Linked DNA regions of Homo sapiens. The protein of the gene in region 1 purifies or fractionates together with the protein of each later gene. This does not show direct contact. Each region holds a gene or a part of one and is shown in the gene's direction. Other genes may lie near its edges.

Region 1 (5,953 bases):
CTTGATCTCAGGTGATCCGCCCACCTCAGCCTCCCAAAGTGTTAGGATTACAGATGTGAGCCACCATGCCTGGCTCTTTTCAGATTAAAGAAAAAAATTATCTTCGTATCTTGACCATGCTACCTTCAAACCAGTTTTCATAAAAAAAAAAATCAAGACAAGAGCAATATTAGATTTATGTCTGACAGCATTAAAAAGCTGCAAGCACAAGAGGATGGAGAATACATTTTCTTTTTAATATCTAGGGAACATACATGAACACTGATAATCTATTAGGCCAGAAAGAAAATATCAATTTCAAAAGGTAGAAACATTACAGACATTTTCTGAATATAGTATGATAAAGCTAGAAATTAATTATCAAAAATTCCCCTGTGCTGGAGATTAAGAAATTGTCTTAAATGATGCTTGAGTCAAAGGGGGAAATAAGAACCAATGCTGAACTTCTAAGATGGAATTAAAGCATAAGGACAGTTGCTAGCATCTATGCTGTCATTGTGTGAATTAGAAAAGGAGTTCCTTTTTCAAGTAAAAGCAGAGACCAACCCTGCTGTATCTGTGAGTAGTCAGTGACGATGGCCTGGAGCCCAGCTGGCTGAAAGATGAGCATGAGGCTCTGGGGAATTAGAGCCAAAATGAGTTGGTAACTGGAGAAGAAAGAAAACATATAAATTTCTCTTCTCTAGGGGAAAAAAAACCTGAGTATGAGTTTTCCCTTAAGACTGGAAGCAAATTTCTATTAAAGTGCTTGCTAGCAAGATTTTGAAGGCCAGGAAAAAGTCATACACAAGAAATGTTTCTTTGATTGAGTTCTATATTCACAAGACCTGACTCCTAAGAACAAAAAGACAAGAAAGCAGCTTATTAAAATGCAAGAAGTTTAATAAACTTGTTACTTTCTATAACCCACTAGAGAATTTACCTGTTTCAAATGCTTTTTATTTTTTAATTTTTAATTTCTTTTTTTGAGGCAGTGTCTTGTTCTGTCACCCAGGCTGGAGTGCACTGGCACGATCTCAGCTCACTGCAACCTCCTCCTCCTGGGTTCAAGCAAGTCTCATGCCTCAGCCTTCTGAGTAGCTGGGATTACAGGTGTGTGCTGCCATGCCCAGCTAATTTTTGCATTTTTAGTAGAGATGGGGTTTTGTCATGTTGCCCAGGCTGATCCTGAACTCCTGGCCTCAAGTGATCTGCCCGCCTTAGCCTCCCAAAGTGCTGGGATTACAGGCATGAGCCACTGCACCTGGCCAATTTTTTAATTTTTTGTGATAGATCTTGCTGTGTTGCCCAAACTGGAGTGCACTAAGTAGCACAGTCATGGCTCACTGCAGCCTCAACCTCCCAGGCTCAAGTGATCCTCTCGCCTCAGCCTCCCAAGTAGCTGGGACCACAGGCACACACTACCATGCCCTTCTAATCAAACACTTTAGAAATATAACTATGTCATTTTAACAAGTTACTGTGTAGAGTGTGGAAATCTTAGGGGATCAATAAAAGAGCCAAAAAAAAAATCCCCAAATAAGTTACTGTGAAAAGTAATAGTCAAAGTTTTCTATCACCTGATGTAAATGATTTGTGAGTAAGCTTGCCAAGCCTGTCTTAAAGGATGCCTATATTCAAAGCCAAGAAAAGTCCCAGTTTGTAATTGTGTTGCTATTATAACCATTCAGATAGTCCCTTCTTGGAGCAGTAGAATATTTTTGAATGGAGGGACTCCTGACATTACTTTCCTAAAATCACAAAAGGCTGTCACTCTCAGGGTTTTGTTTTGTGTGGATAACTTTCTCTTACAGTCACATCTCTCCTAGAATGGGAGCAATAGAGCCTCTAGGTGCTATGAAAGGATGGGGACCTCACCAGAGAGGACTGGTCTCAGCAATGTCCTTAAGTGGTCAAAACATGCTGCGGTTGAGGTCAGGATTGTGAGGGGATAGAGGTGACGTAGAGAAGTAACTGAGTGCATTTAGACTGAGATGAATAGCAACCTAGAAATTAAGGAGGGGAAGAGCTATTGTAGAGCTCTTTCTGGCATGAGGAGTAGGGATAGCTCAAGGTTGGTTTTGATGCAGGAGTCACTGGGCAGGAATTTAAGAGGCTTCCATTGTGACACAAAGGAGACAGACACTATGGATAGGCCACAATGGTGCAGTGACAAAATAAAGACCTGGTTGCTAGGGCCAGAGAATAAACACCGGGTGCCTAGAGGAGAAGAGATGGAGCCCCAGCCTTGGTCCCCTTTCCCACCCTTCCTCCCCACAAGGCTGTCTGAGATGCCACCTTCCACCTAAACATCATCTCCCAAATTTTAATCCTTAACTTTGGTCTCTGACTTCTGCTTGATTCCACAGTCTCCACCCACATTTGCACAAAGGACCATCACCTGTCCTTCCTGGAATCTCTAAAGTTTTCTGCTTTCCTTCTGTCCTGATGGCCAGCTCTGCTAAGTCAGCTGAGATGCCCACCATCTCCAAAACCGTTAACCCTACTCCTGATCCTCATCAAGAATATCTGGACCCTAGGATTACCATTGCCTTATTCGAAATTGGATCACATTCCCCTTCCTCCTGGGGCTCTCTCCCTTTCCTAAAGAATAGCAGCCATCAAGTTACAGAACAACAGACTGCACAGAAGTTTAACAATCTCTTAAAAGAAATTAAAGATATTCTTAAAAATATGGCAGGTTTTGAAGAGAAGATCACAGAAGCAAAAGAACTTTTTGAGGAAACCAATATTACTGAGGATGTGTCAGCCCACAAAGAAAATATCAGAGGACTTGACAAAATCAATGAAATGTTATCAACAAACCTGCCTGTTAGTTTAGCCCCAGAGAAAGAAGACAATGAAAAGAAACAGGAGATGATATTGGAAACCAATATTACTGAGGATGTGTCAGCCCACAAAGAAAATATCAGAGGACTTGACAAAATCAATGAAATGTTATCAACAAACCTGCCTGTTAGTTTAGCCCCAGAGAAAGAAGACAATGAAAAGAAACAGCAGATGATAATGGAAAACCAGAACTCTGAGAACACCGCACAAGTTTTTGCAAGAGATTTGGTAAATCGTTTAGAAGAAAAAAAAGTCCTTAACGAAACTCAACAAAGTCAGGAAAAAGCAAAAAACAGACTTAATGTTCAAGAAGAAACTATGAAAATTAGGAACAACATGGAGCAGTTACTACAGGAAGCAGAACACTGGAGTAAACAACATACTGAGCTCAGTAAACTGATAAAATCCTATCAGAAATCTCAGAAAGACATAAGTGAAACTCTTGGAAATAATGGAGTCGGTTTCCAAACCCAGCCAAATAATGAAGTGTCGGCTAAGCATGAGCTGGAGGAACAGGTGAAGAAACTGAGCCATGACACCTATTCATTGCAGTTGATGGCAGCTTTGCTAGAGAATGAATGCCAAATCTTACAGCAGAGAGTAGAGATTCTCAAGGAACTCCATCATCAGAAACAGGGAACTCTGCAAGAGAAGCCAATTCAGATAAACTATAAACAGGACAAGAAAAATCAGAAGCCATCAGAAGCAAAGAAAGTAGAAATGTATAAGCAGAACAAGCAAGCAATGAAGGGTACATTTTGGAAAAAAGACAGATCCTGTAGAAGCCTGGATGTTTGTCTTAATAAGAAAGCTTGCAATACCCAGTTCAATATTCATGTTGCAAGAAAAGCTCTTAGGGGAAAAATGAGGTCAGCTAGCAGCCTAAGATAGAAAATACCAAAAGCAGATGAAAAGGTGAATCCTTAAAAAACTACATCTGTTACCTCCAACTTGTCAGTCATGATCAATCATCAAACCTTGGGCAGATCTGCTGGTTCAACCAAGAAAGAGCTATAGAATAAGGAGATTGACACTTATATTACTCATTACTTCAGCAGTTATGTAAGTCTGGTCTTTAATGACCATTGTGTCTACATCAAGTTCATAACTTTTCACCTTTACAATCTGCTTGTTTTTTTTGTAATTATTAGATAGACAGCCTAGAGTGAGAAGTTAAAGGTCCAATTAAGTAAAGATCTAAATAAAAACCAGAATACAAGGGAAATTTTTTTTTTCTTTATTTAATCATTGCCTGGGGGCAGGGGGAGTTCTGGGGGGAAAAAGTATATAGTGTTTTTGGCCAGGTGCAGTGGCATTTTGGGAGGCCAAGGTGGGAGGATCGCTCGAGGCCAGGAGTTTGAGACAAACCTGAGCAACACAGCAAGATCCCATCTCTAAAAAAAAAATTAAGTGAAAAAAAAGTACATAATGCTTTAGTTGTGACCTTTTAAAGCTCCCTTTCTAAATGTATGTTTCCTTTTCCTATTATACACTGAAGTGTGGGATGTGGGGGAATTTAAAAAATGCTGATAATCCAACCCTAACAAATCATTTTTCTCTTATAAATCTGCACTGGCTCTACTTTTCCTAAGGTGCCTCCCTTGCTCCTCTGCTAGTGAACTGTGGGCATACGGGGCAGCAGAGGCCCTTGGGAAGGACCCCCTCAACTTGTTTGGAAGAATAGAGACATATCTGAATTTTATTTTATTTTATTTTATATTTTATTTTATTATTTATTTATTTTATTTTATTTTTGTATTGTATTGTATTGTATTGTGTTATATATTTTTGAGGTGGAGTTTTGCTCTTGTTGCCCAGGCTGGAGTGCAATGGCACGATCTCAGCTCACTGCAACCTTCACCTCCCAGGTTCAGGCGATTCTCTTGCCTCAGCCTCCTGAGTTGCAGGATTACAGGTGCCCACACCACACCCGGCTAATTTTTCTTATTGTTTAGTAGAGATGGGGTTTCACCATGTTGGCCAGGCTGATCTCAAACTCGTGACCTCAGGTGATCCACCTGCCTTGGTCTCCCAAGGTGCTGGGATTATAGGCGTGAACCACCGTGCCGGCCTAGATTTTATTTTTGCTGGAAAAGTTTCTCCCATTCCTCCAGATATAGACGGTAGTGTTACCCAGGGGGAAAAAACAGTATCTTCTGTTAAGGGAGCTGGATTTCTGGTTCCAGAAAAGATGGAGCTGATAAATTTTCCCCTATTCTTCTCTTTAAGTAAGCTGAAACCCCTGGACATTATATATAAAGCAAATATAAGAAGATTCTGAAAGATGGAGAGAAGGAGGTAGAATGGTTAGGGACCCTGAAACTTAAGGAACAACATGGTGCTTAGTTCTCTGGGTTTTCTTTTTGCCTCTTATATATTCTGAGCTAGGTGCTGGAGAAGTCCACAACCTAAAAATGTCAATGCATGTAGACAAAAAAATTCCCCCATAAAGCCTGCTTTCTTTTGTCAACAGATGAGGAAAGGAACAGTCTGGTGAGACAGAAACCTTTTTGACAAAACTGCCCTAATCCAGCCAAATTGTATAGAAACATATTTCTACCCCCATCCCTGTTGGCAGATACTGAGTAGAGAGCCTAGACATTCATCCTTGCCTGGCAGTCATGAGGCACACCTCCCCTACTCTACTGGGATGGTGCAGAGGAGGTAAGAGTAGGGATCCTAAAGTTCTATCCTCCACCTGATGGTAACAGTGCTCTTCCCTGGCCTCCCCCAACCCCTCCAGTAGAGTGGAGTCCACGTAAGTAGCCTAGATTTCTACTCCTTTTCCCTGCTGGCATCATCAGCAGGGCCCTACTAAAAAAGAAGACTTAAGATCCAGGGTCTCCTAACAATCCCTAAAATGTCCAGAATACAATAGAAAAATCACTCATTATATTGAGAGCCAGAAAAATCTCAACTTGAATGAGAAAAGACAATTAACAGATACCAACAATGGGACAACACAGACAATAGAGTTATCTGACAAGGATTTTAAAGCAGTCATTATAAAAATGCTTCAGGCCAGGCGCGGTGGCTCACGCCTGTAATGCTAGCACTTTGGGAGCCCGAGGCGGGTGGATCACCTGAGGTCGGGAGTTTGAGACCAGCCTGACCAACATGGAGA
Region 2 (5,697 bases), on another chromosome or scaffold:
GATCTTATCCAGTTTCATGGCATTAAATAGCAACTATATGCTAATAGCTCCCAAATTTATGTTTTTAGCCTACACCCATTTCCTGAACTGCAGACTTATATATCTAGCTGCCTGTTAGACTTGATTGTCTAATGTATGTCTCAAGTTCCTGATCTTTCTTCTAAAGCTGTCAAGGGGAACGCTATCCTTCTAGCCTTGTTCGGGACAAAAATCTTGACATTATCCTTGACTCTTCTTTTTGCCACCCCCTTATGTAATCTGATGTAGAATCTGACCACTTCTCACCACCTCCACTACTATTCCCCTGGTCCAACTCCTATCATCTCTCATCCCTGTTAACCTGCCAGCTGGTCTTCCTGCTTTTGCCTTGGCCTTCTTTTATTCTATTTTCAACATAGTGGTCACTTGCTCCTGAAAATCTCCCAATAGCTTCCTGTTTCAGAATAAAAGCCAAAGTCCTTGCCATGACCTAAAAGGCCGTACATGGTCTGCCTCCCAGCCCCGTTACCTTTGTGACCCCATTTACTACTCTGTCCCCCTCACTTACCCAGCTCCAGTTACTCTGGGTCTCCTTACTGTCTAACACTCCTGTTAGTAACTCCTGTTACTGTCCTAACACTGTCTCCCTGGCTGGAATGTTTCTCCCAGATATTTGCATGGCCAACTCCCCCATCTCCTAAAGTCTTTGTTCAAACATCTTATTAATGGCTTACCCTAACTACCATATTTAAAATTTACAAACTGACACCCTGGGCAGCATTTCTGACCCCTTCCCTTGCTGTGTTTCATTTTCCCATTACACTTAACATCTTCCAATATACTGTATAATTTACTTATTTTATTTTGTAATTATCATACTGTACAATTGAATTTTTTCCCCTTAAGGTATACAGTTCTATGAATCTGGACACATACATAAATTCTTGTAACTGTCACCACAATCAGGATACAGGACCATTCCATGGTTTCAGAAAACTCTGTTGTGCTATCCCTTTATAATCATATCCCTTCTCACCCCTAACCCTTAGAAACCACTGAATTTATTTTTATTTATTTATTTATTTATTTATTTAGTCAAGGCAGGGTCTCGCTCTGTTGCCCAGGCTGGAGTGCAGTGGCGCAATCTCAGCTCACTGCAACCTCTGCCTCCTGGGTTCAAGCCTCCTGCCTCAGCCTCCTGAGTAGCTGGGCTTACAGGCGTGCACCACTATGCCTGGCTAATTTTTGTTTTTTTAGCAGAGGTGGGGTTTCACCATGTTGGCCAGGCTGGTCTTGAACTCCTAACCTCAAGTGATCTGCTCACTTTAGCCTCTCAAAGTGCTGGGATTACAGGCATGAGCCACGACGCCTGGCTAGAAACCACTGAATTTTTCATCATATATTTTTTTCTTTTCAATAATGGGGTCATACAACTTTTGAGACTGGTATAATGCCTTTCAGATTCATCCAAGTTACTGAGTTATAAATAGTTTGTTCCTTTTTATTTCTGAATAGTGTTCTATTCTATAGCTGTATCACAGTTTATCCATTCACTTCCATTGAAGGAAATTTGGGTTGTTTCCAGCTGTGGTACTTACGAATAGAGCTGCTAAGAACATTAGTGTACAGGCTTTTGTGTGAATGTAAGTTTTCATTTCTCTAGAATTTCATTAAATTATTAATTACATTATTATTTTTTGCATATTTTATTCACTGGCTAATAATTCTACATGCCTAAAACAGTTCCTGGTATATAGTAGGAGCTCAATAAATTAGTGAATTTGCTATGTTATTTTAGAATGAAGAGGAAGAGTGAAAGAGTCACTCTGAACTCATTCAAGGTTCATGTCACCAGACTCTAGACTGCAGTCTACTCAAACCCCAAATGGCCAGGAGACTTGAGCTGAAAGACACCTGCAAGTTGAGAATGTAAAAGGCTTTTTACTCAAAGCAAAGCAATTCCTTCCTCGTGTTTTTGGTGGTCATTTATCAGCCTCCTGACTTGAGAGAAGAGCTTGGGATGAGGTTGGAGAGAATCCTCCTGAGAGAATACTTTAACAGTGACTGTCAACATAACTCATTCCTGTGCAAAATGCACAGCCAGATATTCCACTCTGAGAATAATCCAGGAACAAACTTGCTTGCAAAAGCAGGGGAAATAATGTTGTGTGACTAACTTAGTTTCACTTAAACTCATAGTAAAGATCACCAGTTGGGGCATGGAAAAGGTAAGAGTTAGAGATAAAAAGGAACATAACGATTATATGAGAAGTTGATGTTTATAAAAGAGGTTGATCCATTTATCCAAATATGTGTGTTTGCAGCCGTAGGCTGTGTCTGCCCTATTATGTATCCTTTTTGGATAAGGTTTTTGTTTCGTTTCGTTTTGTTTATTTGTTTGTTTGTTTGAGATGGAGTTTTGCTCTTGTTGTCCAGGCTGGAGTGCAATAGCATGACCTTGGCTCACTGTAACCTCTGCCTCCCGGGTTCAAGCAGTTCTCCTGCCTCAGCCTCCTAAGTAGCTGGGATTACAGGTGCCCGCCACCACACCTGGCTAATTTTGTATTTTTAGTAGAGATGGACTTTCGCCATGTTGGCCAGGCTGGTCTTGAACTCCTGACCTCAAGTGATCCACTCGCCTTGGCCTCCCAAAGTGCTGGGATTACAGGTATGAGCCACCGTGCCCGGCCTGGATAAGCTTTTTTTTTTTTTTTTTTTTTTTTTTGTGATGGAGCCTCACTTTCTAGCCCAGGCTGGAGTGCAGTGGCACAATCTCAGCTCACTGCAACCTCTGCCACCTGGGTTCAAGCAATTCTCCTGCCTCAGCCTCCCCAGTAGCTGGGATTACAGGTGCCTGCCACCGCACCCGGCAAATTTTTATATTTTTTAGTAGAGATGGGGTTTCACCATCTTGGCCAGACTGGTCTTGAACTCCTGACCTCGTGATCCACCCACCTCGGCCTCCCAAAGTGCTGGGATTACAGGTGTGAGCCACCATGCTCAGCACCAGCCTAGATAAGCTTTAAAAAGCCAGGGTGGGCGTGGTGGCTCAAGCCTGTAATCCCAGCACTTTGGGAGACTCCGAGGTGGGCAGATCACTTGAGGTCAGGAGTTGGCAAGCAGTCTGGCCAACATGGTGAAACCCCGTCTCTACTAAAAAAAAAAAAGCCACTTAACAGGTGGGGTGCAGTGGCTCATACCTATAATCCCAGCCCTTTGGGAGGCCAAGGCGGGTGGATTGTTTGAGCTCACCAATTAGAGACCAGCCTGGGCAAATGGCAAAACCCTGTCTCTACTAAAAGTACAAAAATTAGGTGGGTATGGTGGTGTGCACCTGTAGTCTCAGCCACTCAGGAGGCTAAGATGGGAGGATGGTTTGAGCCCAGGAGGCGGAGGTTGCAGTGAGCTGAGATCATGCCACTGCACTTCAACCTGGGTGATAGAGCCAGACCTTGTCTCAAAAAAAAAAAAAAAAAAAAAAAAGAAGCCACTTGCATTCAGTTTAAAATCAGATGCTGCCTCATGCCCCAAACATGGAACTCTTCATAACCTTATTCATTAGAGCTTAGAATTCAGTAAGAATCAGTTGGATTTTGGATCCTATCCAGTGCATTATAGTTTTTGAAGCCTCAAGATTTCCGTTTACATGTCTTTCATGTTTAAAGTTTGAGCAACAGGCTGGGTGGTGGCTCATGCTTGTAATCCCAACGCTTTGAGAGGCTAAGGCGGGAGGGTTGCTTGAAGCCAGGAGTTTGAGATCAGCCTGGGCAAAATAGCAAGACCTTGTCTCTACAAAAAATTAAAAAGTTAGCCAGATGTGTCGGTGTGTGCCTATAGTTGCAGCTACTCAGGAGGCTGAGGCAGGATCACTTGAACCCAAGAATTTGAGGTTACAGTGAGCTATGATTGTGCCACTGCCCTGCAACCTGAGGGACAGAGTGAGACCCTGTCTCAAAAATAAAATTAAGATAGAGTTTGAACAAGGTCTCAGAATAAGTTTTCTTCATTTCTTAAATACGTTTTTAAAATAAATACTATGGACTTAACAAAAATTTTAAATATACAGAACAACATAAAGAAAAAAATGCAATCCTACACCTGTATATAAGCACTATTGATATTTTGATTAAGTTCCTTCCAGACATCTTTACAGGTACATGTGTGCAGTACATGTATGTGTTTTTGTCACTCTAAAGAAGAGAAGGGATCACAGTAATGCTTTTGGGGTGGGAGGAAGCCCACCTTCACGTTCAGTAAAAGGGATACGTGAGGCCGGGCATAGTGGCTCAAGCCTGTTATCCCAGCACTTTGGGAGGCCAAGGCGGGTGGATCACGAGGTCTGGAGATCGAGACCATCCTGGCTAGCACGGTGAAACCCCGTCTCTACTAAAAATACAAAAAATTAGCCGGGCGTGGTGGCGGGCGCCTGTAGTCCCAGTTACTGGGGAGGCTAAGGCAGGAGAATGGCGTGAACCCAGGAGGCAGAGTTTGCAGTGAGCTGAGATTGTGCCACTGCACTCCAGCCTGGGCGACAGAGTGAGACTGCATCTTAAAAAAAAAAAAAAAAAAAAAGGGATACATGAATGGAAGAAAGAAAATTAGCTTCAGCATCTGAACACTCAAAACAGTTTGTAAACATCAGTGTTTAATTAAATTATTTTGAGGATTATCTTCAACTATCAGGAAAAATGAAATGATTCTGAAATATGTTGTGGATTCTGAGTTGAACTGAAAGCTCCATGTGGGGGTGTAAAGGCTCTGCTTATCCAGCCACGTGTCCAGGTTAAGGCCTTAACATAGGACTGAAACAGAAGACTGTTAACTTTTTGCCATTCCCAAACATAGAAACAGATGTCCATCCACAGCTCTTCAGCCATTCTGGATGGCTAATTAGATGGGGGTATGGACTGCATTGCCATCAACTCAGATAAAATTCATTGCTCTTTTAATAAGGCAATACATAAATTGTATGTGTATGTCTGTTTTTGTTTTAGGATGTGTGTAGTAATCAGTTCAGTGATGCTACTGTGTGATTGAATGAACTGAGTAGATCGTTAAGGGTTCTTTTCTAACCACTATATTATTCAAGAATTCATTTAGAATGTCTTTAATTTCCTCCAGTTGGTAGCCCAATAGTGTACTGCCTTAAATGTTCAAAAAGCATGCCTCTGCCATTTGCAGTAACTGGAAACCTTAGGAATTTCTGCCAAAGTCCTTCAAAGCATAAAGCTGAAGTATGTATTGAAATGCTTGAGTCAGCTGCTCAAGGGTTATACTGACTGCACTCCTGCTGATTTTTCTAGGGTAAAAAAATCTCCTTGGTGACCTGAGGCAGCTACCCAGAAGCACGTGTATTATAACTATGCACAAAAAGCACAGAGATATACTACATCTAAATTCTAGCATTGGAATTGTTATATTTTTTATTATTATACTTAATTTCAGTAAATCTTTTTTAATAACGTATAAGAAAATAACTTTAACTCTTCTACTGATTACCATTAAAATTTTTTAACTCTTCTCTAACTTTCTAATTTAGGGAAGGAAAAAGAAAGGTACCTACTGTATTTATTGAATGTTTAGTATGTGCCTGAAATTTTTATTTGCTTAGTGTTACTCCCATTTTGTAGATGAGGACCTCAGAACAGTTAAGTGCGGTCACATAGCTTTGAATAGCAAGCACAGTTAGGATTTGAACAAGGTCTTCTTGATTCCAAA
Region 3 (5,697 bases), on another chromosome or scaffold:
ATTTCAATATTTTAATTGTTTTTAATTTTTTAATTATTTATTTTAAATAAACAATATTTTATATCTGAAACCTGTTAATTTTGATTTGTTTGGTGGAACATTTACTCAGAAAAATTACTTACCTCTACACATCCCTGACATGAAAGAAAATACTGGATGGATTGGCAATTCCAGTATAAAATATGGATCTATGAAAGTAGTGAAAGAAAATATAGAACTTATGATAGAAAAGGATGACCTCAAAGACAAAAATCATAAAGGAATGGTAATATGAAAACTTACTCCTTCTAGAATATGTTATATACAAAATTAAAAAGATAAATGGCAAATTAGAAACAACATTTGCAACATATATGAAAGAGAAAAAGTGAATATCCATGTTATGTAATGAGGTCTCATAAATCTGTAAGAAAAAGCACTTCCCTTTTAATTTTAAAAATATCTACAAATTAAACACATGTCATTTTAATAATTAGCAACTATTTTTTAAAGGGGAAAGCAAAAGGAGGAAGGGGGAGATAATGTCTGGTTTAGGAAAAGTCTGGAAAATGGGAACACATATACACTGCTATCATATAGCAGTGTACACTGGGTGCAGGTGGGGAGTTGATCAAGCTGGCAATGTGTAGCAAAGTCTTTAAAAATTGCATATCCTTGGGCCCTACAGTTCTACTACTAGGAATATGTCCTAACAAAATAAATAGTCTAACGTATTTACATAGTTTTTCGTTGTTTCAGACAATAGCAGTCTGAAAAAGAAAATCCAAGAAATATAGAAAACACATGAGCTCGTATTTCCTCTCTAGAAGCTATAAAGCTGTAAGAAGTCGGCCGGGCACCGTGGCTCACACCTGTTATCCCAACACTTTGGGAGGCCGAGGCGGGTGGATCGCCTGAGATCAGGAGTTGGAGACCAGCCTGGCCAACGTAGTGAAACCCCATCTGTCCTAAAAATACAAAAAATTAGCTGGGCGTGGTGGCAGGCGCCTGTAATCCCAGCTACTTGTGAGGCTGAGGCAAGAGAATCGCTTGAACCCAGGAGGCGGAGGTTGCAGTGAGCCGAGATCACACCATTGTACTCCGGCCTGGGCAACAAGAGTGAAACTCCATCTCAATTAAAAGAAAGAAAGAAAAAAAGCTGCAAGAAGTCATAGACATGGCTATATGCTGGTCTAACTGTTGACTTCCCAACTCTTTAGATGGAACATGTATAGGCAACATGGTGTAGAAAAAGAGTCTTGGCTTAAGAATTGGAATGCCTGAATCATGCTACTAACTAGCTGAGTTAATATAAATATGCAAATTTATGAAATTATTAAAATAATAATGTTAAAGAGTAGAAAAGTCTGTGAATCCCTTTACCCATGTATATGTGTTTGTCTTCACCGCTGATTTGCAAATAAGAAGTCTCATATCAAGTGGGAAGGGTAGATTTTTATAATTTCACTGAAATTCAATACCAAATGGTAAAATCTGGAATGCCTTGACTGTGAGAGAAAATAACAAAATATTTTAAATAGGGTATACATTCCAATTATTAGTTTTTGAAATTTATTCTAAAGAAATTTCTGCTCATATAAGGATGGGCAGAGGATAACTGGGCTTGAATAACTGGGCCACACCTACATTTAGGTGTGGTGGAGAGGCAGAGCTCCAGAGCAATCTGTTCAAAATTCTGTGATGCTGGAAATGCTCTATATCTTCTTAGTCCAATATAGTAACTACTAGCCACATGTGGCTATTAAACACTTGAAAGGTAGCTAGTGCGACTGATGAAACAGATTTCAAATCTTATTTAATGCTAAGTAATTGAAATAGCCACGTGTGTCTAGTGCTATCTTAATAGACAGTGACACTCTAGAATTAAGCACAACAAATAGGGTCTTTTATTTAATATCGGAGGTTAATTTCAAGCACCTCTGCTAAATTCGGATGATATAGATAGGACAAGAAGGTGAGTATTCTTTGTGCAATTTCCCTTTTATCTACAGAAATACAGATCAATGAAATCCTTTGATTCTAGTGACTGCAAGTCCAAGATTTTCCAGAGAAGTGTTGGTCTCAAGTAGTCTGTAGTTTTGTTTGCTTAAGAATTTTAATGCTCATTCATTTTCTCATTTATTTTTTTTAAAAAACCTTATATTGAATATATTTGTGTTGGACACTGACATTGAAAAGATAGTAGTAGTGCAGAGTTCCTTGATTCAGGAAATCCTTGGAGTATCCTAAGGAGTAAATGGTGCAGAGCAGATATTACAGAGGAGGGGAGAGAAAATGCTGTGTGGAGAAGGAAGCACTGGGATAAACCTTAAAGAAATGGCCAGTGTTCAATAGGAAGCTGGGGAAAGGAGGATCTTGAGAAACAGAACAGTATGGGAAAACCAGGGAGAGATGAGAATCAGAAATGTCTGGAAATGTAATAATGGCAGCAGCACAGAAAATAGACTAGTGTGTAGACAGAAATGAGTCCAGAAGTTAATGTTACAATCCAGAACAAGTATGAGGGAGGTTATGAGCTAAGGGGATGAAAGTAGAATTTAAAAAGAGTAGATTTGAGAGGTGTTTTGTCTGTTGCTTCTCTTTACAATAAGTCAGGTAGAGAACAACTGATTTATCTTTTAAGCCCCCTTGAAAATTGTCGATTACTGCATACAATGCTGGAGCAGGATTTTTGTGGCCAAGGAAACTGAGCGTATCTTACAATATGCAAGTTTTTCAAACAGGACCAACTTACATAAATCATCCTCTTGGAAGTAGGCGCAACTACATCATGTATGTAGTTGAAATGTATGACACATGACAATTTTGTTTGGGGATGTAATGTAACTGAGGTGGAAACTTAATATTTATGAGACTTCCTCTTTCGTTAAAATCTTAACATTCTTTGATTTTGACAAATAGTGTTTTTATTTCTTCCAAAAATACAAGAATTTTAAAAGTATATAATTAGGCATCGTTTAGAAAGGTCAAAAAAGCAATCGTCTGTTGAATTTATGATTTGGGTACATTATTCTTCTCCAGTCTTTACCCCATTTTGATGGACTTTTTTCTCTTGGCAGTATATCCAGGTTCATTTATAGGTGGGAAGACAGTAGAAGCTGTTATTCCAGCATCAAAGCCCCCACTGTTTTCTAATAAGACGTTAGGTTTTATTTCTTCCAAAGCCTTATGATCACTGCAGTCAAAAAAAGAAGGGTGGAAAATGCAGAAAAATGGTGGAGGAGGTGGAGTATGGTCTTGGTCATAAAGAAATGAAAGGAGAAAGGTATTACTGAAGAGTATGGGCATTAGTCTGACTGTAAGGAGGACTTTGGCAGTAACTACAAGCCAGAGTGAGTGAGGAAAGAATAGCAGCCATTTGGGCAATGTGCTGACCATGTGTGGCTTGATACTAGGAAACCTGAACATACAGCAGGACAGAGAGGAGCACATCATGTGAGAGTTCCATGAGTTCTCGGATTTAAGAAAATAGAAGACTTTCTAAGTGCCAGATACTGTTCTAAGTACTTTTTGTTTAACCTATTTAAGGCAATTAACCCTTTTTTTTTGGAGAACAGTCATAGAACATGGAAATCACTGAAGAAATGTAAGTAGTGGTGGGATGCAGTGGCTCACGTCTGTAATCCCAGTACTTTGGGAGGCTAAGGTGGGTGGATCACCTGAGGTCAGGAGTTCAAGACCAGTCTGGCACCAACATGGCGAAACCCCGTCTCTACTAAAAATACAAAAACAAAACAAAAACTAGCCAGGCATGGTGGTGTGGGTCTACTGTAGTCCCAGCTACTCAGGAGGCTGAGGCAGGAGAATCACTTGAACCAGGGAGGTGAAGGTTGCAGTGACCCCAGATCGCACCACTGCATTCTAGCCTGGGTGACAGAGTGAGACTTCATCTCAAAAAATAAAAAAATAAAAAAATAAGTAGTTATTATCTCTCCATCAATCCTCACAACAACCCTATGAGCAGGGTACTTTTACCATCTTTATTTTACAGATGAAGAAATTAAGGCCCGAGAGGTTAAGTAATCCCCCAAACAGCATACAGTTAATCAGAGAGAGCTCTATTTAATCAGCTCAACTACTACGCCATCCTGCCTACTCTTAATCTATGTTAATTTTATAATATGTACAGAGATGATACTTGTAACGTGCTCACAAAGTGCCTGACATATAGTAAACCTGCAAAAATGTTAGCAATTATCATTATGTAATAAGATTTAGAAGACTTTCCGGTATTTATGTCATTCTACACCGACACTGCTCAGAAATAGTAACAAGATTTTTAGGGCAGCTCTGGATTTTTCTTATGTAAAGTGTAAAGAAAGCTTTGTTTAGGAGCATGCCCTTATAAATTGGAGAAACTCTTCTTCTACCCAAATACTGTCAATCAGTTTGACTGGCACAGTTGAAGTTTTTACCTCAAAGAATGGGCCTCATTGAAATGTTCTATATACTCATCTACATGGCTCTGACCTTCTGACAGAGAATGACTGCTGCTAATGGTACTAATAAGAGCAAATGGAATTCCCTTCCAAGCTTGGTATTTGAATAATATGTCAATTTGTTCATTGCCGTCTTACTAGGAATTAAATGCGCTAATATTTTTATAACCTAAGGGAGCTAGTGCGAGGTTGGCAGCCAGAAAAGGGAATCAGGCCAGAGGCTGGCCAAGGCATAGTCATGAGGGGGTGGAAGGGTCACAAAGTCAAAGTCAAGCAGGTGGACCCAGGCAGAACCCAACCAGACTCTAGAACAAAGTTAGGTTCAAAGTTTGGTTCTTATCTCCTTTCCCTATAATGTGGGCTGGTAGGGGTGGGTTGATTGTCATCCTCTGTACAAAAAGAATTGTATGGAAAATTAGCTGGCTCTGAAATCTAACTGAAATAAGAAAGTCAATAAAAGCATAATTAAAGATACTTAAACATTGTAGATACAGGCAATGAAAGAACAATGCCTCTGTTGTACTGGATTTCCAGCAGGGAATGATGCTGTTTGGGTTAAGACACAGGTAAGGCAGAGGAGCTTTGAGAATACCATGGCTCAGGAAGGAAGAAATGTGAGAAAGCTAGAGAGGTACAGGAGACTACAGAGGAGAAGGGAAAGGCAAAATCTGGATTCTGAGTAATCAGAAGTTGTCGTCTGCTTTGGTGGCTCCTATAGTTCCCTTTGTCTTCATCAGTGACCTGAGAATTCACAGGGTTTTCACCAGTAATGTCACTGGGCAAGTGTGCCAGGCCGACCACCCAATAAGAGGACAAGGAAGAGAGAGTGGAAGGATCAGCAGAACTGTCACCACTCTGATTCTGTGGTGTGGGAGCTGGGGATGTGGGGTGGGGAATCTCTCTCTAGAGGTTTGTTCTCTGCTGTGTTACTCCCATCTGTGATGGCTTTTTCTCCATGAGCTTAAATGGTGATGGTTTTCTTCCAACTATTAGGGAATACATTGATAATGTTAGTGATTCATAGAGTGTCTGAAATAATCTCTGCAAATGTTATGTGTAGTTGGTTATCTGGAGAAGTAACAAGCTTTTATCAACCATAATAACTAAATTTGTATGGTGATTTACTGTTTGCAAAATATTCAATTATGTTATATTTGAATCTCCCACAATCCTAGGAGGTTGATGACACCATCAATTCCTTTATAAGGATGAAGGAAATCAAGCTCAATTACTTTCCTAGAGGCACTGGGTTTGATAG
Region 4 (5,697 bases), on another chromosome or scaffold:
CCCTCAGGAGAAGGGGTAGGGAGAGAGGCACCAGGTCTGGGGGTGTAGAGCCTCATCCCAACTTCCGAGCTTCCTTCTTCCATCCTGCTGCTATAGACTTTGCCAACATGGAGCTGTCTGAGGTGGTGAGCAACACCATCCTGTCTGCCTACAATGGAGGGCTCCTGAATGTGAACCTGAGCTCCCCACCGGCAGGGGAAGGCCTGGGATCTAGCGGTGCTGCCACCTCGCCCATTCTCACTTCCAACGATGCCCTGCTCTTTCATGAAAAGTGCGGGACCCTCATCAAACTCAGCAACAATAATAAGACGGCTGAGCGCCGGCGGCCCCTGGATGAATTCAACAATGGGGTTGTCATGACCAATCGCCCCCTTCGGGACAATGAGATGTTTGAGGTGTGCAAAGTCCTGTGGTCTGGTTGGCGCCTTATCCCTGGGAGCTAAAGATGGGGATTGACCCTTGGTGCTAGGAGGGTGGGCCCTGGGGAAGAACCAAGGGCTGAAGGTCCCTTTCTGCATTTACATTCCCTGCTTCTCCCTTCTGTCCCTCAATGCCAGATCCGTATCGACAAGCTTGTTGATAAGTGGTCAGGCTCCATTGAGATTGGGGTCACCACCCACAACCCCAACAGTTTGGAGTACCCAGCCACCATGACCAACCTCCAGTCAGGTACCAGCCCCGGGCAGGGGCGGGGGTGCAGGCCTGGTGTTGCTGAGGGGAAGGAAGCCCCGTACCCGAACCCAAGTGTCCACTATCACCCAGGCACCATCATGATGAGCGGCTGTGGAATCCTGACCAATGGCAAGGGCACCCGCCGGGAGTACTGCGAATTCAGTCTGGATGAGTTGCAGGTGAGGGTGGGGCACAGATCCCTGGGCCGCTTTCAGCAGAGCCACAGGTACTCTGTGTCCCTGCCAGGGCACCAAGCAGGGTCTCCTATGTGACCTAGAGGCAGTCCCTGTATCTTCCACCTAAAGGTTCCTTCCTAGAAGCCTGAGTTGCCCAAGAGTTCAGCACTCAGATTTTGGAGTCAGATGGTTGAATTCCTCTTACTGTTTTCCCATTTGTAGTAGCGAACCGGGGCAAGAAGCTTATCCTCTTTGATTGCTCCCCCACCTCCTGCAATCTCTAAAATGAGCCTACGAGTAGTACTTATTCCATAGGCTGAGACTTGTAGAAGCTAATGTCTGTGAGGTGGTTTAACTCAGTGCCTGACTCACGTGGAGCATTGACGAAATGTGGAAATTGTCATGTCTGGAAAACAAGGACCCAGGACCTGTCCTCCAGGGTGGTCTGAGACTCTCACGAATACCTTCTGGAGTTGTTCCTGTGTGGAGTGGGGTGCTGAGCAGGCCTCAGGACTCCTCTAAACTGTTTGTCTTCTTTGATTAGGAGGGTGACCACATTGGCCTCACAAGGAAGTCCAACTCTGCCCTACACTTCTTCATTAATGGTATCGATCAGGGTAAGGGCCGCCCAGAGAGAGCCTCTGGGCCGGGGCTTTCGGTGGGGCTGGGACTGGGGGCTGTACCTCATCCTCCTGCTTCTCTTTGGTGCTTGGCCTCCCTGTGTTTGACTTTCTCCCCTCATTCTCCCTGTCCACTCCCACACCCCCGTACCTTCCTGCCACAGGAGTGGCAACCCCCTTGACGCCCCCAGTGGTGTATGGTGTGGTGGACTTGTACGGGATGGCAGTGAAGGTGACCATCGTCCACAATAACAACCACAGTGACCGTCTCCGCCGAAACAACGCCATCCTGCGGGCGCTGTCCCCCGAGGGTGCTCTCCGCCGTGCTGCCCCTGCCGCCCAGGCAGAACCTGAGCGCCTGCTCTTCCACCCCAACTGTGGGCAGAAGGCAGCCATCACCCACGAGGGACGCACTGCCCTGAGGCCCCAGTATGGCCCATGGGGTGGGGAGAAGCCTGAAGAAGGGATTCTAATGGGGGGGGGGGGGCGGGGCAAGGAAGTGGAAGGCAGAGGGAGCCTGGCGGGGGCAGCTTCCTGGAGGTTGAGCTTTAGTTCTTTGGCTTGGGGCAGTGAGTGTTGGCAGGCATTGCTGGGCTAAGCCTTGGCACATTGAGAGCGTGTGTTGGGGATCTGACTCTCCACTTGCTGTGCCCTCAGTGCCACCGATGACTTCAATCACGGCGTGGTGCTGAGCAGCAGAGCCCTGCGGGATGGAGAGGTGTTCCAGGTGCGCATCGACAAGATGGTGGACAAATGGGCTGGCTCCATTGAAATTGGTGTCACCACCCACAACCCTGCCTACCTCCAGTTGCCCTCCACCATGACCAACTTGCGCTCTGGTGAGCTCCCAGGAAGGGCAGGGACAGGATAGGGTTTTGGGGGGAAGCTATCCCCAAAGCCCTGGCACTTGTTCTGCAGCTCCTTTTTCACTTGTCACTCTTGTGACCACTCATTCAGTGGCTAGAGAGTGTCCCGTGGGCAGGGCTGTGGCTGTCTTGGAAGCTGCAGAGTTTTCTTGTCCTGCTCAGGGAAGAAATCTAGTCATCAAAGAAAAGGCAAGGTGGACTGTGGGCTCGGGAGTCCTGTGGGCGCTGCTGTGGCAAGGAGAGGAGCCCTGCATTTCCCCTCATGTCCCCTCCTGCTCCTTGTCCTCCCAGGGACCTGGATGATGACTGGGAATGGGGTGATGCACAATGGGACGACCATCCTGGATGAATACGGGCACAATCTGGACCGCCTCAAGGTGGGAAAGTGGGTGCGCCGCCTGGCGGCCGCAGCGGGCATCACAAACACCGCGGGGCTGATGCAGGACCAGCCCCGGCAGGAACTCTGCCTGACTCCTCACTCCAGCACCCCCTTCTTCCAAGGCAGGGGACACGGTGGGCGTGGTACGGCGGGAGGACGGGACTCTCCACTTCTTTGTCAATGGGATGACTCAGGGCCCTGCTGCCTGGAACGTGCCCCCGGGCGTCTATGCTGTCGTCGATCTCTATGGCCAGGCGGCCCAGGCCACCATTGTGGACGACGTGGGTGAGGGCCGGGCTGGGCTGGGGCTGGGGGTTAGGGTGGCCTTGGGAGGTCTGAGAGACACCTAGAGACCTGATGGGTGATGTCCACTTTTACAGAGGTGGCTCCAGTTCCTGAACCACTCCCTGAGGGGAACAACCAGGTGTCTCCAAGCTCTCCGTCCTCAGGGGCCGGGGGCTCTGACCTGCGCTTCCATCAGCTGCACGGCAGTAACGCAGTCATCACTAACGGGGGCCGCACCGCCCTCCGCCACAACTGTCGCAGCGAGTTTAATGACGCCATCGTCATCTCCAACCGGTCAGTCTCTCAACTTTCATGTCCCCACCTTCCTCCTGCCCAGCCTCAGCCATGCAAGTAGAGCCTCTCTGATCGCCAGTCTCCTGGCAGGGCCCTGCGGGATGGAGAGCTGTTTGAAATTGTCATTCAGAAGATGGTGGACCGCTGGTCAGGCTCCATTGAGGCTGGTGAGGGCCGTCTGTGTGTGTTGGGGGCTGTTGGATGTCTGTGCCTTGGGGATCGGCCTTGACTTACCCCTGCCTCCTCCCAGGAGTGACTGCTATTCGGCCTGAAGACCTGGAATTCCCCAACACCATGACAGACATTGACTATGACACATGGATGCTGAGGTTGGGCTTCCTGCTTTGGGGACCAGCTTGGGGCTGAGTGGAGCTGGCTGGGATCAGGGAAGCAAGGTTTGGGCCTATGGTGGCTGTGGGTAGTGACAGACCTAGGGGATCTACCTGTCCCCTCCCCTTGAATTCTGGGAAGTCCTGCCCAGGCCCACAGGGGCTCAGTCCTCCTTCATCTTAGGCAGTTCTTGCTTTTTCCTAAGGGGATCCCAGGGACAGAGGAGATAGGATTGGGCCTTACACCCAGATCAAGACACCAGCCCAAGACATTGGAGGGTTCTGACAGACAGGGAGTGGGCAGGGGCCAATGTGAAGTTGAAGTTGGCAGGCTGACTCACCCCTTCTGCCATCCCCCCAGTGGTACAGCCATCATGCAAGACGGTAACACGATGCGCAACAATTATGGGTGTGACCTGGATGCGCTGGGCACAGGTGCACGCATTGGCATGATGCGAACTGCCAAGGGCGACCTGCACTACTTCATCAACGGCCAGGACCAAGGCGCTGCCTGCTCGGGCCTGCCTCCGGGTAAAGGTGACTATGTGGCTTTCAGCCTGCCACCCTCAGCCCAGACCACCTGGCTGTCAGGCTTCTGACCTTCCCTCTCCTCCCCAGAGGTGTATGCGGTAGTCGATCTCTATGGCCAGTGTGTCCAAGTGTCCATCACCAATGCCACCGGCCCCATGGACAACAGCCTGGCGACCAGCAACACTGCCACCGAGAAGTCCTTCCCACTGCACTCCCCAGGTGCGGCAGCAGGGCGGGGGCTGGACGGGCTCTGCTTGCCTGCTGTGCACCTGAGGAGTAGGGTTTCCAGGTTAGAGAGGTTCTGCAAAGACGGTTGGCTGGGGTAGCTGCCGGCTCCAGGGAAGGGACAGCCCACGGTGGCAAGCAGCCAGTGAGGGGGAGGTTACACCTGGTACTTAGAGCCTGGACACTTCCCTGCCACCAAGGGGCCAGGACACCATAAGCTGAGCATGCCAGGTTTGGAAATGGGCCTTGCTGTGGTGAAAAGAGGTATCAGGGCCGGGCGCAGTAGCTCACGCCTGTAATCCCAGCACTTTGGGAGTTCAAGGCAGGTGGATCTCTCGAGCACAAGAGTTTGAGACCAGCCTGGGAAACATGGCGAAACCCCGTCTGTACCAAAAATACAAAATGTAGGCAGGTGTGGTGGCATGCACCTGTGGTCCCAGCTACTTGAGAGGCTGAGGTGGGAGGATAGCTGGATCCCAGGAAGTCGAGGCTGCAGTGAGCCACGACTGTGCCCCTGCACTCCAGCCTGAGTGACAGAGCGAGACTCTGCCTCAACAAAATACAATAAAGAGGTGTCAGGAGGCCCTGAGGTGTAATGGCAGATGGCAGATGGGGCGTTGGCATCCCCATTTCGTTTCATCTGAAAGCTTTGCTCTGTGTTCTGCCTGAAGCTCGCTGCCCCAATCCTACCCCTTCTACTGGTGCCATCTCTTCACAGTGGCTGGCGTGGCTCACCGATTCCACAGTACTTGCGGCAAGAACGTCACTCTAGAGGAGGATGGCACGAGGGCAGTGCGTGCCGCTGGCTATGCTCATGGCCTTGTCTTCAGTACCAAGGAGCTGAGGGCTGAGGAAGTCTTTGAGGTAGGCCGTAGTGATGTGACAGAGGGGCTGCGAGGCCCATCACGACAGGGCCAGCTTATGTTTTCTCTGTCTCGTAGGTGAAAGTGGAAGAGCTAGATGAGAAGTGGGCAGGTTCCCTGCGGCTGGGGCTGACCACACTAGCACCGGGGGAGATGGGACCCGGGGCAGGCGGTGGTGGCCCAGGGCTGCCTCCTTCCCTGCCAGAGCTCCGGACGAAGACCACTTGGATGGTATCCAGCTGTGAAGTGAGGCGTGATGGGCAGCTCCAGAGGATGAACTATGGCCGGAACCTAGAGAGGCTGGGGGTGAAGTGGCTGGCTCCAGGGACAGGGGAGGGGTTGGGAGTGGAGGTGGCAGGGAGAGGTGGGCTGAACATCGTCCGTCCTTGTCCTACCTCGGTCCTAGGTGGGGAGCCGTGTGGGTGTTCGTCGGGGGGCAGATGACACGATGCACATC

Evidence for each region.
Region 2: the proteins of SPZ1 (region 1) and SNTB2 purify together in Homo sapiens (affinity purification with mass spectrometry; 2 studies listed by BioGRID and IntAct, with this or other methods). This does not show direct contact.
Region 3: the proteins of SPZ1 (region 1) and DTNA purify together in Homo sapiens (affinity purification with mass spectrometry; 3 studies listed by BioGRID and IntAct, with this or other methods). This does not show direct contact.
Region 4: the proteins of SPZ1 (region 1) and NEURL4 purify together in Homo sapiens (affinity purification with mass spectrometry; 3 studies listed by BioGRID and IntAct, with this or other methods). This does not show direct contact.

The regions. Positions count from the first base shown.
Region 1 is NC_000005.10:80,317,789-80,323,741, forward strand, and holds SPZ1 (spermatogenic leucine zipper protein 1), read left to right. Parts: upstream 1-2,213; 5' UTR 2,214-2,427; coding exon 2,428-3,720; 3' UTR 3,721-4,054; downstream 4,055-5,953. UniProt on the Homo sapiens protein: Transcription factor that binds to the DNA sequence 5'-CANNTG-3'(E box) and the G-box motif. May play an important role in the regulation of cell proliferation and differentiation during spermatogenesis.
Region 2 is NC_000016.10:69,238,491-69,244,187, forward strand, and holds part of SNTB2 (beta-2-syntrophin), read left to right. Parts: intron 1-5,697. UniProt on the Homo sapiens protein: Adapter protein that binds to and probably organizes the subcellular localization of a variety of membrane proteins. May link various receptors to the actin cytoskeleton and the dystrophin glycoprotein complex.
Region 3 is NC_000018.10:34,715,451-34,721,147, forward strand, and holds part of DTNA (dystrobrevin alpha), read left to right. Parts: intron 1-5,697. UniProt on the Homo sapiens protein: May be involved in the formation and stability of synapses as well as being involved in the clustering of nicotinic acetylcholine receptors.
Region 4 is NC_000017.11:7,321,409-7,327,105, reverse strand, and holds part of NEURL4 (neuralized-like protein 4), read left to right. Parts: intron 1-96; coding exon 97-395; intron 396-557; coding exon 558-669; intron 670-762; coding exon 763-851; intron 852-1,392; coding exon 1,393-1,465; intron 1,466-1,632; coding exon 1,633-1,897; intron 1,898-2,125; coding exon 2,126-2,307; intron 2,308-2,625; coding exon 2,626-2,711; intron 2,712-2,835; coding exon 2,836-2,998; intron 2,999-3,093; coding exon 3,094-3,292; intron 3,293-3,382; coding exon 3,383-3,459; intron 3,460-3,542; coding exon 3,543-3,621; intron 3,622-3,982; coding exon 3,983-4,158; intron 4,159-4,239; coding exon 4,240-4,371; intron 4,372-5,095; coding exon 5,096-5,241; intron 5,242-5,318; coding exon 5,319-5,546; intron 5,547-5,646; coding exon 5,647-5,697. UniProt on the Homo sapiens protein: Promotes CCP110 ubiquitination and proteasome-dependent degradation. By counteracting accumulation of CP110, maintains normal centriolar homeostasis and preventing formation of ectopic microtubular organizing centers.